2 separate regions of the Homo sapiens genome follow, and region 1 is linked to region 2. Evidence: fine-mapped expression QTL. Tissue or cell type: whole blood. Region 2 holds a variant in brackets; the other region holds the start of a gene. All regions are shown on one strand. Distances are between the middles of the regions.

Region 1 (7,230 bases), 73 kb before region 2:
TCCAGATACTCAGTCTAATGCAGCAGATAAAGGTGTAGACAAATAACTACCACTGTATAGAGTGCTACAGTGCTACCACCGAGGGTGTGAAGTGCCTGAGGCCCTAGGAAAATACTTAATGCCTTCTAAGGGCTTCTCTGCCCATCCTGCCCACCTCGCATTATAAGCCTCTCCCCCAGGAAGCCATTCTGCACTAATGCCAATTGCTCTAGATTTCACTCTGGGCCTCTGCAGGATCCATGCTCTCCCTAAGGACCCTCAGTCATTTGATGTGTCTCTCCACATAGACCACAAGGGTCCCCAAAATGTGCATTATGTATTAGATTTTTTCGTATTTCCTTAGCCTGGGACTTGATATATGCTGGACGCTCGATAAATCTTGTTGATAGAGACCGTCTTCTGATGCCTCTGAATGGAATACCAGTCTGAAGGCTAAATGCCATCAGCAGTTTTAACACTGACAGCACAGTCTGCTAGAATACCAATTTACCACAAAAATAAATACATCCCCTGGAGGCCTGCTTGGTGAAATTAATCAATGGCTTGGAGAATTTGAAACACATACAAATTCCAAGTAATAAGCTGGTGATCTTCAAGTCTGCAATGAACTGGGGATGTCTCACCTCCCCAGCTCTCCATCCAGGACCATCTGGGCTCCCTCCCCTCTTCTGTCCTGTACTCTGTGCAGGCACATCATTTTTCTAGCACCACTTGCCCCTCCTCCCACGCCCTCCCCAGGAGTGGGGAAAGGGGAGGTTTGGAACATCCTTTCTCTCTCATACCCATCAACCACAGCCTTGCTTTCCAGCTCTTCCAAACATTACCTCTTCAAGACCTCCTCTGCGGATCCCACCCAGAACCAGACTCACAGGAGATTCACGGCACAGACACCAGACCCTCACTGACATCCACCCACTCTTTTTTTCCGGGCAGGTTCTCCTTCCTCTGTGCCGAGGCCTGTTCCACTCAGGCTACTGAGCCAGGAGGCAGGCTTGGTGGGCTAGACACAGTCAGCATTTAATAACAAAGGTGTAATAATAATACAAACAAATATACTATTAAGATGAACCTAACGGTTGGAGTTTGCCAAGCCATCCTGTGACTGCAAATCCCTTTTCAATTAATCTTCATCAGTTACCAAATGAGGGTAGACTAGAATGATCTCTAGATATAGAGATATAGAGATCCTGGGCATCTCTATGCTTCCGTGAGTCTGTGAATGTTGCCTAAGGAGAATAAATGTGAGCTCCTTAGGCTATGAGAATAATAAGAGGGAGAGTATGGGCTCTTTGATATCAGAATAAGACAGAATACAGGCTGGGCACGGAGGCTCATGCCTGTAATCCCAGCAATTTGGAAGGCTGAGGTGGGAGGATCACCTGAGGTCAGGAGTTCAAGACCAACCTGGCCAACATGGTGAAACCCAGTCTCTACAAAAATACAAAAATTACCCGGGCATGATGGCAGGTGCCTGTAATCCCAGCTATTCAGGAGGTTGAGGCAGGAGAATCACTTGAACCCTGGAGGCAGAGGTTGCAGTGAGCCGAGGTTGTGCCATTGCACTCCAGCCTGGGCAACAGAGCAAGACTCCGTCTCAAAAAAAAATAATAATAATAATAATAAGACAGAAAAGAAAGAGAAGAGGAAGCGAAACGCTGAAAGGCTATCAGTTAGCTGGGCTGGGTGCAGTGGCTCACGCCTGTAATCCCAGCACTTTGGGAGGCTAAGGTGGGTGGATCACCCGAGTTCAGGAGTTCAAGACCAGCCTGGCCAACATGGTGAAAACCCGTCTCTACTAAAAATAGCCGGGAGTGGTGGCACACACCTGTAGTCCCACCTACTCGGGAGGCTGAGGTAGAAGAATCCTTGAACCTGGGGGACGGAGGTTGCAGCGAGTCAAGGTCGCACCACTGCACTCCAGACTGGGCAGAGCAAGACTCCGTCTCAAAAAAAAAAAAAAGGCCAGGCACGGTGGCTCATGCCTGTAATCCCAATACTTTGTAAGGCCGAGGAGGGTGGGTCACTGGAGGTTGCGGTGAGCCAAGATCGCGCCACTGCATTCCAGCCTGGGCAATAAGAGCGAAACTCCATCTCAAAAAAAAAAAAAAAAGCTATCAGGACTAGAGGAAGAGCGAAAAGTGAAAGGGCGGCCAGGAGCAGAGGCTCACGCCTATAAGCCCAGCACTGTGGGAGCCCAAGGCAGGTGGATCACTTGAGGTCAGGAGTTCAAGACCAGCCTGACCAATATGATGAAATCCCATCTCTACTAAAAACACAAAAATTAGCTGGGCATGGTGGCATGCGCCTGTAATCCCAGCTACTCAGGAGGCTGAGACAGGAAAATCGTTTGAACCTAGGAGGCAGAGGTTGCAATAAGCCGAGATCTCGCCACTGCACTCCAGCCTGGGCAACAGAGCCAGACAGTCTCATAAAAAAAAAAAAGGAAAAAAAGAAAAGAATGTACGGGGGAAGGCACAGGCTTGAACTCATACTGGGTGCCCTACCAGTGAAGTCGGCTTATCTCTAAAGCATCCTTTTAATCTCTCTAATGGAAGGATTATGTGTCCGAAACTTACCCCAAACCCACTTTCCAGTGTTTAGGGAACATCTGGCCTGATGTAGGCTTTCAATTCAGATGAGAGATTCACAGCCAACTTTCTGGGGGCCCTGGGGTTACGGGGCTAGGAAGGCAGGCATGACTGTAAGGTCTGAGGAGAAAACTAAGGGACGGAGTTGAGGAAAAAGAAATAGGTCCTTTATAGTCCTGGCTCGCTGGTAGCTCCCTCTCTCTCTCTCTCTGTAGTTCCTCAACGCCTATGTCTTTGGGACTCACCTTTTCTCCAAAGTCCTAAAATCTTCTTTCAAGTTCCCCATAGGCTCTATTGTTCCCCCAAAGGGCTCCTCAGATCCAGATCCTCCTCCTCACACACACCCACAGTCTCCCATTTAATCATCTGTATTCTCAAAACATTTATTGAGTGCCTACCAGACACTGTGTGAATACGTATCTAAGACAAAAATTCCTGCCTTCGAGGAGTTGTTAGTGGGTGCAACAGACAACTACACAGATTGGGTTGCAGTGAGGGCAAAAGGGGAAAGTCTTAGGTTTTTTTCCCCCAAGATGAGTCATCTGGAGCTTTTCAGTTCCTCAAACTCGTTCTTAGCTTCTCAGCCGGCAGGCCTCTGCCTCTGTAGTTTCCTGAGTGGGCCCCTCTCTTTCCACTTCTCTTCATCCGGCTAACTCCTAATGCCTCTTCGTGCTTCCTGTATGAAGCCCTCTTTGACTCCCCTCTGCACACAGCCTTCGCCCACCCCCTCCCCCACTCCAGGCTAGACCAGATGCTCCTCGTCCGGCCCCCAAAAGGAAGCTCTGTACCTCCCCTATCATGGCATCTACTACTCTGAATTATCATTGCTTGTTTCTACCAATGTGTGAACTCCAGGGGTACCGGGACCAGATCTCTCGTCCGCCGCAGCGTCCCGGCGCAAGCCTGTTCAAGGAAGGAAGACACCCTGCAGAGCTCGGAACCTTGCAACCCCCGACGCTGCTCCGCAAGCACCACCGCTGGAGCCAGCCCCTCCGGCAGGATACGCCCCACGGGCCCCGCCTCCTCACCTTCGCATTTGCTGGGCAGGCGAACCCAGTCGTTCTCCTCAGCTCCGGCCTGGCTCGGGCCCAGCTCCGGGGCCGGCAGCAGCAGCAGCAGCAGCAGCAGCAAGGGAAGAAGCAGAAGACAGCGGGACGCGGGCTCAGGCATTGAATCCATGGCCCGGCCGGGCCCGGACCCTAAAGGACCGGGCGGTTCCTCCTCCCGCGGCGCGCGCGGAGCAGTTTCCCCTCGCCGCTTCCGGGACTGCACACGTGCCTCCGAGCAACCACGACAACAGCTAGCCTCCCGCCCGCCCTCCTCTCGCAGCCGCAGCCCGCCTTCAAAGCGGACCAAGGCCCGCGGACGGCGCAGCCAATAGGCTTTCTGGGGTTTGCTCTCTAGCTAATGGGAAGACTATCTTTTTACGCCCTTGGCCAGTAAGAGAGCAGATGGTGGCCTCAGCGACCTATGGCAAAGTCCTTTCCCACCCCCTAACGGAGGCTCTGGGAGAGAGAGGATGCAGGACCAAGACCCGAGAAGAAGCCTGCGTCTGGGCCTGGGTGGGACGGATTCAGGCGCGCAGGTGCTGGAAGATGTGGGGAAGGCCGTCTTCGCGGCTTTCTCCGCCTCCTCGAACGTCACTTCCCTCCTGGGGTCCTAATGCCGCAAGTCCTTACTGAACATCTGTTTTTAAATTTTATTATTGGTATTGTGGTTGTTATAGCCGGGCACTCTTGTAGGCGCTTAAGGTGCAAGCAGGACGACTCAAACTGTCCCCAGCCTTCACACTTTTTTAGTAGCCAGTAGATTTGTCCTAGTGAGAACTAGAACAAATGACTTCCTCTCTGAGCCTGTTTCTATTTGTATGACGACAAAGTGATCCTCCTAGCTGCTGTGGGAGCTTGCCTGTTGTTGGGAAGCTCAAATAGGTTAATAGAATTAAAGCTTATCGAGCAGATTGTAAAAAGTTCAGGCATTAATTTTCTTTTTGTATGTAATCCCAGCCCCTTTTACTGCCCTATTATTTATTTCTTGATTCTGAGCTCTCAGAAGGCAGAAATTTAGCCGATTAACGATTGTCTCTCCCTTCCGCTTCCCCAGCAACAACAGGGTGCCTGGCACAAGGAGATACTCAGTAAAACTCTCATCTGCTGTGTCATTAAGGGGAACACTTAATGGCTCACGCCTGTAATCCCAGCACTTTGGGAGGCCGAGGCGGAAGGATCACCTGAGCCCAGGAGTTGGAGACCAGCCTGGGCAACAGATTGAGACCCTGTCTCAACAAAGAAGAAGAAGAAGAAAAAGGCCAGGCGCCGTGGCTAATGTCTGTAATCCCAGCACTTTGGGAGGCCAAGAAGGGAGAACTGCTTGAGGCCAGGAGTTCGAGACCAGCCTGGTCAACATAGCGAGACACCCCCCCCATCTCAAAAATAAATAAATCAAAATAAAAAATAAAGAGGAGGCCGGGCTTGGTGGCTCACGCCTATAATTCCAGCACTTTGGAAGGCCGAGGTAGGTGGATCACGAGGTCAGGAGTTCAAGACCAGCCTGGCCAAGATGCTGAAACCCCATCTCTACTAAAGATACAAAAAGTTAGCCGGGCGTGGTGGCACACGCCTGTAATCCCAGCTACTCGGGAGGTGGAGGCAGGAGAATTGCTTGAACCTGGGAGATGGAGGTTGCAGTGAGCCGAGATCACGCCATTGCACTCCAGCCTGGGCGACAGGGCAAGACTCCATCTCAAAAATAATAAATGCCGGGCGCGATGGTTCATGCCTGTATTTCCAGCACTTTGGGAGGCCAAGGCGGGCAGATCACAAGGTCAGGAATTCGAGACCAGCCTGGCCAATATGGTGAAACCCTGTCTCTACTAAAAATACAAAAAAAAATAGCCGTGGTGGTGGGTGCCTGTAGTCCCAGCTACTTGGGAGGCTGAGGCGGGAGAATTGCTTGAACCCTGGAGGTGGAGGTTGCAGTGAGCCGAGATCGCGCCACTGCACTCCAGCCTGGCGACAGAGCGAGACTCCGTCTCAAAAAATAAAAATAAACAAATAAAAATAAAGAGGAGCACTCTTGGTCTTCTTTAGGCTGCCCCTGAACTCAGTGTCCTACAGACGCACACAGACCAAAGTTGCTTCTCTGGGAAGTTGTCTGCAAATTGGCCATAAAACCCTGTTCCCTGATACCTTCTTGTTTCCTTCCTAGAGGTTGGATATTTATGCTATTTTATGAAGACTTCAGAGCACTGAGGCCCAGGCCTTGCCACTTTCTGACTTTAGTTTCTTGTCCAAAACTGTGTTGGTAACAAAGCACTTTGGATAGGCAGGGGCTGTGGCATGTGGAATTCCACAGTGTACAAGATCAGGACACCCTCCTAAGGTCCTCCATGTTTTCTAGGCTTGATAAGACTTAGGTTGGCTCAAGCTGGGCACAGTGGCTCACACTTATAATTCCAGCACTTCGGGAGGCCAAGGCAGGCGGATCACTTGAGGTCAGAAGTTCAAGACCAGCCTGGCCAATGTGGTGAAACCCTGTCTCTACCAAAAAATACAAAAATGAGCCAGGCATGGTGGCGTGTGCCTGTAGTCCCAGCTACTTGAGAGGCTGAGGTGGGAGAATTGCTGGAACCTGGGAGACAGAGATTGCAGAGAGTTGAGATCGCACCACTGCACTCCACCCTGGGGGACAGAGTGAGACCCTATCTCAAAAAATAAAATAATAAAATAAAATATAAAATAAAATAAAATAAAATACTTGGGTAGGCTCAGAGCTTGGCCATGGCCCTTGATTCACCTCGGCTCAGAAGCCCTCCTGGGAAATAAGATTAAGCCAGCCTGACAGTGGAGATTGAGAAGCCTGGGCTCAGCATCTGGCCGGACAGCTAGGAAGGGATAGTGGCCAGAGAAAGTCTGAGGCTATAGTTGGGCCCCTGCCCACACCCTCCCTCAGTCTGTGTGTCAGAGAAGGAACATGCCTTGTGGGGATGGTGGACAGATTCATCCGTAGAAGCTATGGGACCCTCCCACCCCAGCCACCAGCACCCAAGAATCCCCAAAACAAGTGGGAGAATCTCCTTTCAGGCTGGTGAGAGATGAGCAGTGGAGGAGGCAGTGAGAGTTTTTATGGAACAGTAGCTGAGAGAGCACAGAGGCTCAGGGGAGCTGAGGGTGTCCTTGAAACCATGTGTTGGGGTGCTGGGGCATAGTTCCCCATCCCCTCCCTGGGGGAAGGAAGACTAAAGTTGATCCAGCAGACTATCCTATGGGGCCCAAGGGACAGGTGGATTTACATGACAGCACCCAGAGTCTCTTGGAGTGATTACTAGCAGAGAACCCTTGGGAAAGTCTGGATTTCCTGCCAGCGCTGGGCAAGCAGGGGACGCACACGTTATGCTCTACTGTGGAAGCCTCATACTTGATCAATACAAGAATCTTCTTTATGTAACAACCAGACCAAAAAAGCCAAACCTCTTTAGTACCTGGCTCAGGGTTGATACTTAAAGAATATTTGTCAAATGAATAATGACTCTTAATTGATTAATAAACTGTAAGTTTGGAATTAATATCTCATACTCTTGTTATTGAAAACGATCCTGTTCCCCAGAAACCCTGGCCCTGTTCACCTCTGTACGAGAGTTCAC
Region 2 (8,220 bases):
TATCCGTTAAACAAGAGAATAGTACTGACCCACCAAGTAAAGTACAGCAAATGTTCACTGCTGTTTTTGTAGTAGCAGCTAAGCGTAAGTTTTTCTACAGTGTGAAATATCTGTTACTTTTACATTATATTCTATAATTCCTTGACCTTTCTGTCTCTGATTTAGTGGCTGTGACCTGTAAAGTTTTAAAGAACAAATATCAGTAGCATGACTTTTACCATGGCATCTTCTAGGAGCAGGCATCTGTATTTGTTAAGCATAGCTTGGGTCCTTTTTAGGAGCTGAGTGGCAACTGTCTCAAATTCATTGTCCACTTTAAAAAGAGAGAGACAAAGAAATAGTGAGAGACTGTAAATCACTGACTAGGTCTTCTGTTTCTTAAGACTGAAATACATTACTCTTCTGTTATTCAAACATGGCTTATCTGGGGCAATTTTCTCTTCTTAGATGAGCTTTTCCCCGGCTAAGCATCATCCTTCTACACTGCATTCCCTCACTGTCCACTGGTCATGGAAACTCATTTTATTACTAACTCTTTTAACTTTAACTAGGAAACCAAAAACATAATTACTTTGATATCACCTATAAAATAAAACCATATAACAGACTCGCAATAAATATCAATGAGTAGGCCGGGCACGGTGGCTCATGCCTGTAATCCCAGCACTTTGGGAGGCCGAGGTGGGCGGATCACGAGGTCAGGAGATGGAGACCATCCTGGCTAACATGGTGAAACCCCATCTCTACTAAAAATACAAAAAAAAAATTAGCTGGGCGTGGTGGCGGGCACCTCTAGTCCCAGCTACTCGAGAGGCTGAGGCAGGAGAATGGCGTGAACCCAGAAGGCGGAGCTTGCAGTGAGCCAAGATCGTGCCACTGCACTCCAGCCTGGGCAACAGAATGAGACTCTGTCTCAAAAAAAAATATATATATATCAATGAGTAGAGAATGATCTGCTAGTTTAGATGACCTAAGCCTAATGGTATGAAAAACTAAAATAGCTGAAACAATGAAGTCCAACTGTCTGGACTAGGTAAACCAGTTTAATGTAAAGACACAGCTTTACATTAAACTGTCATGGTCATGTGGCTCTGTCCTCTGTCTGTTGGTCTCCAAGGATTTGAACACCTTCTAATTCATTCTTCTTCTCAGTCTTCACACCCACTGTGGGTTTTTTTTTTTTGAGACAGAGTCTTGCTCTGTCGCTCAGGCTGGAGTGCAGTGGCGCAATCTCAGCTCACTGCAACCTTCTCCTCCCGGGTTCAAGTGAGTCTCCTGCCTCAGCCTCCCGAGTAGCTGGGACTACAGGTGTGCACCACCATGCCCTTGCTAATTTTTTTGTATTTTTAGTAGAGATGGGGTTTCACCATGTTGGCCAGGATGGTCTCGAACTCCTGACCTCATGATCTGCCCACCTCGGCCTTCCAAAATGCTGGGCTTATAGGCGTGAAGAACCATGCCCAGCCCTTTCACACCCCCTGTTTAACGCTGGATCTTGACCCTATTCCTTGGTGTCCTAGGGAAGCCCACAGTGGACTCACAGAAACCACTGTGCCCTGAGATTAGAGGTCCCTGCCAGGAGGAGTAAGACTTGTAGCAGCTGAGGAAGGGATTAGAAAAGAGGAGGGCACTGATACAGCCAGGCCTTAGCGGTGGTGGTGGGAAAGAGCATGGCCAGGCATCAGGACAGAAGGAGTTCTAGGTTTGGGGAAGGGGCTCTTATCTCTAAATTATTATTTATTTATTTATTTATTTTTTAGATGGAGTTTCGCTCTTGTTGCCCAGGCTGGAGTGCAATGGCACGATCTCGGCTCATGGGAACCTCTGCCTCCCGGGTTCAAGTGATTCTCCTGCCTCAGCCTCCCGAGTAGCTGGAATTACAGGCATGTGCCACCACGCCTGGCTAATTTTGTATTTTTAGTAGACACAGGGTTTCTCCATGTTGGTCAGGCTGGTCTCGAACTCCTGACCTCAGGTGACCCACCCACCTCAGCTTCCCAAAGTGCTGGGATTACAGGTGTGAGACACTGCGCCCAGCCTTTTTTTTTTTTTTTTTTTTAAAACAGAGTCTTGCTCTGTTATCCAGGCTGGAGTGCAGTGGTGCGATGTCCGCTCACTGCAACCTCTGCCTTCCAGGTTCAAACGATTCTCCTGCCTCAGCCTCCCAAGTAGCTGGGACTGAAGGCGTGTGCCACCACGCCCAGCTAATTTTTGTATTTTTAGTAGAGACGGGGTTTCACCATGTTGGCCAGGCTGGTCTTGAACTCCTGACCTCAGGTGATCGGCCTGCCTCAGCCTCCCAAAGTGCTGGGATTACAGACGTGAGCCACTGTGCTCAGCCTTTATCTCTCACATTTTTGTCAGTTTCTTGATGTGTGGCCAATGCTCTGGACTCATTTTGGAATCTTAGGGAATGCTTTTGGGAGCTCAAGTGCCTAATTCATAAAACTATTAGAAACAGTTTGGCCAGGAGTGGTGGCTCATGCCTATAATCCCAGCACTTCCGGAGGCTGAGGCGGGCCAATCACCTGAGGTCAGGAGTTCAAGACCAGCCTGGCCAACATGGTGAAACCCCATCTCTACTAAAAAAATACAAAAATTAGCCAGCCGTGGTGGTGGGCGCCTATAATCTCAGCCACTGGGGAGGCTGAGGCAGGGAGAGTCACTTGAACCTGGGAGGCAGAGGTTGCAGTGAGTTGATCGTGCCACTGCACTCCAACCTGGGTGACAGAGCGAGACTCCATCTCAAAAAAAAAAAAAAAAAAAAAAAAATTCAGGGTATGCATATGGCCTAAAGGCAAGGACTATGCAAAACCACTGTGTAGAGTGTCTAGTGCAAAGCCATCCCATCTGGAGCCGGCAGTCCATACAAAGCTTTGGATTTACTGTCCCTAATTTGTCAATAAAATACTCTGACATTAGGGTACCCTCCTAAAAAATATATATATATATATATATATTTTTTTTTTTTTTTAAGAGACAGTGTCTCCCTATGTTGCCCAGGCAGGAGTGCAATGGCTATTTACAGGCGTGATCATAGCACACTATAGTCTCAAACTCCTGGGCTCACATGATCTTCTTGCTTTAGCCTTCTGAGTAGCTGGGACTACAGGTGTGTGCCCCTACTCTTGACTTCCCTTCAAAAAATACTGAGAAGTGTAAGTCACAACCTTAAACATGGACTGGGAAATTGAGTAAACAGGGAACAAGTTTGGTCTGTGATTAAAAACAATAACCTGCCTACCATCTGGGGGTGATGTGGCTCTTGCTTTTCTGGGGGGTGTCCATGGAGGGTTTCCTGGTATCAGAGTGGTGCCTTAGGGTCCCAGCCTGCTTACCTTTTCTCAAGTCTTCTTCAGTGGGCATGGAGCCCTGGCACACGTGGTAGGAGAGCAGTCTCTGTAC[C/T]GCATCACTTAGTGATCGGAAGTGACTTTTGTCTGGTGTCACAGTGTGGGCTTGGTCCCTCTGCAACTGCTGGAGAATGCTTTACAAGGGAAATGGTCAATGTCAATGTAAAGTCATGTTAGGAAATTAAATCTAGTCATATTTATTTGCATGCAAATAAAATAAGATATATAGGAATAATACGGCAGTTTTTTAGTTTTATATTTTTTATACCATAGTGGGTTTATAACTTAGTTTAACTAGCCCCACAGAGGACTCAAACTATGACCCTGACCTCAAAAGCACAGGTTCCCACCAATCATTTATGTGTTGGCACCCCTATAAACCTTGGCAGTGCCTGACCATTGGCCAACTAAGTTCATGCTAACATTTCTGTTCTAAACATGGGAGTTTACCAAACCACGCTTTTCCTCAGAGATTCTTTGTCTCTGAAAAGACAAAGAACTATTCTCCTTAAGAAGAAAAGAGCAAACAGTAGGCTGAAACTACATTCAATATATTTGAAATGTATACACTACCTGTAATCCTAGCACTTTGGGAGGCTGAGGTGGGTGGATCACCTGAGGTCAGGAGTTCAAGACCAGCCTGGCCAACATGGTGAAACTCTGTCTCTACAAAAATACAAAAATTAGCCAGGCGTGATGGCGGGTGCCTATAATCCCAGCTATTCCAGAGGCTGAGGTGGGAGAATCACTTGAGCCCAGAAGGCGGAGGCTGTAGTGAGCCGAGATCGTCCCACTGCACTCCAGCCTGGACGACAGAGCAAGACTCTGTCTCAAAAAAAAAAAAAAAAAAAAAAAAAAGGAAAAGAAAGTATAGAAAAAGATTTTCAAAGTATATATGTATATATTTTGAGACAGGGTCTTGCTCTGTCACCCAGGCTGGAGTGCAGTGGCGCAATCTCCAATTCACTGCAAGCTCCACCTCAGAACTCAAGCTATCCTCCCACCTCAGCCTCCCAAGTAGCTGGGACTACAGGCCCGTACCACCACGCCTGGCTAATTTTTGTATTTTTTGCAGAGCCATGTTGCCCAGGCTGGTCTCAAACTCCTGGGCTCAAGTGATCCTCCTGCCTTAAGACTCCCAAAGTGCTGAGATTACAGGAGTGAGTCACCATGCCTTGCCTCAAAGTACATTTTTAAAAAGGCTAATATACTCATTATTATAACCTGTTTTCTGTGGTATATTTATTGAAGGCTAGGGACCCAAAGAAGTGTTCAGAATTGATTTGTCATTTCCGAGAGTAACTCACAAAGCTCCTTTCGTTAGCTGTTTCGCAGCAGGCCTTTTTTGTCCTCCCGAATGACTCTCCACCTAAAGACAAAACAAACCTCTTATTATTCCCTTTTATAGAAAAAAGAATACAGTTATACATAAAGGTCACTATAGTTCACATATTTTCAACTACCTATCAAGAACATATTCTAAGACTACAGAATGTGCCCTGCTGAAAAATAAAAAAAAAAAAACCAGTACACAGAGTCCATGAAACAAAGTTGTACTGTGTTAAGATTACAGAAAGGTGTATAATCGGTTCCTGAGAGGGACTCAGTTTGCACTTTAAAGCCTGAATGCCTACCTCCTCTCTAAATGCACCATCATCATCATCATCATCATCATCATGTTTTTTGACAGGGTCGTGCTCTGTCGTCCAGGCTGGAGTGTGGTGGTACAATCTCGGCTCACTGCAACCTCTGCTTCCCAGGCTCAAGTGATCCTCCCACCTCAGCCTCCCAGGTAGCTGGGACTACAGGTATGCACCACCACGCCTGTTAATTTTTTGGTATTTTTTGTAGAGACGGAGTTTTGCCATATTTTCCAGGCTTGTCTCGAACTCCTGGACTCAAGCCATCCGCCTGCCTTGGCCTCCCAAAGTGTTGGGATTACAGGTGTGAGCCACAGCACTGACCCATCGTTATATTTTTGAAATTCCACAGACATCTGAAAAGTCAGTAGATACTATCTAATCCATCTTCTCAGTGTAAGTATGGGATACACACTTTTAAGCTCCTGTTATATATAGTCCAGGTGTGTGATCTAACGAGGCATTTTTTACATCATGTTAAGGAAACAAATAGGCCTTATCTCAGAACCTTAGAACTGAACAGATCCTTCACTGTGTATTCCAGGCAGTCCCACACTGCAGCAAGTTTCATTCAACCACTAATTGGTAGGTCTGATGGAAACGAAACTGTCTTAGTAAGCTGAAAACAAGAAATGTTTCCTTCCATTTTAGACTAGTAGTTTGAAATCTTTTAGGTTTAAAAGCCAAACTTGAAGTTATCAAATGTGCCCTGAAAATATGTACATCTATCATGTATCAAAAAAACAAACAAACAAAAAAAACTAGGCCAGGAGTGGTTGCTTAAGCCTGTAATTCTAGCACTTTGGTAGGCTGAGGTGGGAGAATTGCTTGAGCCCAGGAGTTTCAGACCAGCCTGGCCAACATGGCAAAACGTTTTCTCTTAAAAAAAATATAAAAATATTAGCCAGGCGTGGTGGTGCGTGCCTGTAGTCCCAGCTACTCAGGAAGCTGAGGTGGGAGGATCGCATGAGCCCAGGTGATCGAGGCTTCAGTGAGCTGTGATCACACCACTGCAGCACAGTCTGAGTGACAGGGTGAGACCCCAACTCAAAACAAAACAAAAACAAAAACAAAAACAAAACAAAAAACCCAGCTGGACTAGACAGGGCACAGTGGCTCACACCTGTAATCCAGGTACTTTGGGAGGCTGAGGTGGGTGGATGGCTTGGGCCCAGGAGTTTGAGACAGGTGTGAGCAACATGGCAAAATCCTATCTCTACAAAAAATACAAAAAAACAGCTGGGCATTGTCCTAGCTACCCAGAAGGCTGAGGCAGGAGGGTCACCTGAGCCTGGGAGGTCAAGGCTGCAGTAAGCTGTGATTGCACTACTGCATGCCAGCCTGGGTGACAGAGTGAGACCCTGTCTCAAACAAAAACCAAAAAGTTGGACTTTAAAAAGTGTCAAAGTTGGGTCAAAAGACCGTAGGGATGGCCTACTTCCTATACGCCTGGTTACTACTACAGAAAAACAAAAATCCCTCAGTATAACTAAGAAGAAGAGATTCGCTTTGATATAATAGTGAACGATATCACCTAGTAGTAAATGACATTTTTTGAGTGCCTAGTATGTACTAGCTGCTGGTATATTACTAATTCATGAGGAAATGATGGATTAATGAAGCACTGTAAACATGTCAGAAATAGAATAGACATTCATCTCAGAAACATAAACATAACAAGGCCCAGCCCACCAGGAAGGTCTTCAATGACCACCCTGTTGTGGGCACACAGGGGACTGGGTGGACTGTGCACACAAAGCTAGCCAGCAACCACAAAGATAGCACGACTACATTTTCATTCAATTATGCCGAACATTAGGAAGAGGCTATGCCAATAGTTTTCTACCTGCACAGCTGGATGGCCAGGAGATGATCCAACTACTTTTTCCTGCTGTGGTTGTGCGGTTCCTAAGGATGCGGATATAACTTTGCTTCCAGAATCCTGCCCTATTAGAATTAATACATGAGACAGTGTTCAAAAGAAACAGTAAATTGGGTCCATCATATAACCCTAGAACCCAATGGGTACAGACTGTTGAGCATTCTGAAACGGGTTTCTTTATCATGGCTGCTTGCTGTGAAGAAGGAGGGCAGGGTAGTGCATTTACTTACAAGCTCTAAAGGAAGAGGTTATTAAAGCCTATTTAAGTAATAAATAAGTAAATAGTAATAAATAGAAGCTCCAAATGCTATAGTTTCAAATTATTTATAGTCTGAAAAACAGGCCTCAAGCCAGTAATCTGTCAGCACTACAGAATCCCAAAATACAATTTAAGGAAAGGGAGGCCCAAAGAGGCAATTGACTGGGAATATTCAAGCTTTTTCTCTTTCTTGCCTTTTTTTTTTTAAGTACTAATTGGGTACTGCAGATGTTCAAAGCCTTAGAAAAAACGGAAGACATAGTCCATAATATTTTCAGTCTGGGTGGAGAATTCCAAACATGCATGTAGAGAGCAACATGGGGATAATTTCAAAGTCACAAGTACTGTAAAATACCTTTTCTTTTTTTTTTTTTTTTTTGAGACAAGGTCTTGTTCTGTCGCCCAGGCTGGAGTGCAGTGGCGCAATCATAGCTCACTGCAGCCTCGACCTCCCAGGCTCAGGTGATCCTCCTGCCTCAGCCTCCTGGGTAGCTAGGACAATGCCCAGCTAGTACAGACAGGGTTTCACCATGTTGGCCAGGCTGGTCTTGATCTCCTGACCTCATGATCTGCCCGCCTCGGCCTCCCAAAGTGCTGGGATTACAGGTGTGAGCCACCGTGCCCGGCCTCAATTTATTGTTTCTAAGAAGTATTTTTTTTCCACATAATTTAATGTGTCATAATTTAGATAGAAGTGCTTGTTTTTCTTTTTGGTAGTATAAAAAATGATAGTACATCTTACAATTGATGCTATCTTAGTGGGGTTTTTTTTTTTTTTTTTTGAGACAGAGTCTCGCCCTGTCACCCAGACTGGAATGCAGTGGTGTGATCTCAGCTCACTGCAAGCTCTGCCTCCCGGGTTCAAGCGATTCTCCTGCCTCAGCCTCCTGAGTAGCTGGGATTACGGGCGTGTGCCACCATGCCTGGCTAATTTTTGTATTTTTAGTAGAGATGGGGTTTCATCATGTTGGTCGGGCTGGTCTTGAACTCCTGATCTCAGGTGATCCACTCTCCTTGGCCTCCCAAAGTGCTGGCATTACAGGCGTGAGCCACCGTGCCCGGCCCAATGCTATCTTAGAGTTGATGCAA

What was found. PIP is the estimated chance that this variant, and not a neighbour inherited with it, causes the effect.
Region 1: it holds the start of CNPY3, and the variant in region 2 is fine-mapped to the expression of CNPY3 in whole blood (TOPMed, PIP above 0.99).

What each region holds. Positions count from the first base shown.
Region 1 is chr6:42,926,108-42,933,337 of GRCh38, reverse strand. It overlaps CNPY3 (canopy FGF signaling regulator 3), which reads right to left and starts at 3,858. Exons shown (of 6, transcript NM_006586.5): 1 at 3,617-3,858. The coding sequence starts at 3,767. CNPY3-GNMT (CNPY3-GNMT readthrough) reads right to left here and starts at 3,858. Exons shown (of 5, transcript NR_134892.2): 1 at 3,617-3,858. RefSeq lists enhancers at 3,140-3,249, 3,560-3,819, 3,462-3,963, 4,270-4,319, 4,330-4,379 and 1 more.
Region 2 is chr6:42,852,355-42,860,574 of GRCh38, reverse strand. BICRAL (BICRA like chromatin remodeling complex associated protein) reads right to left here. Exons shown (of 13, transcript NM_001393499.1): 8 at 6,837-6,937; 9 at 4,658-4,719; 10 at 3,339-3,484; 11 at 219-313. Among named protein-coding and RNA genes, the nearest start is that of RPL7L1, 23 kb to the left of the region's middle. The variant C/T (reference allele first, on the strand shown) is at 3,406.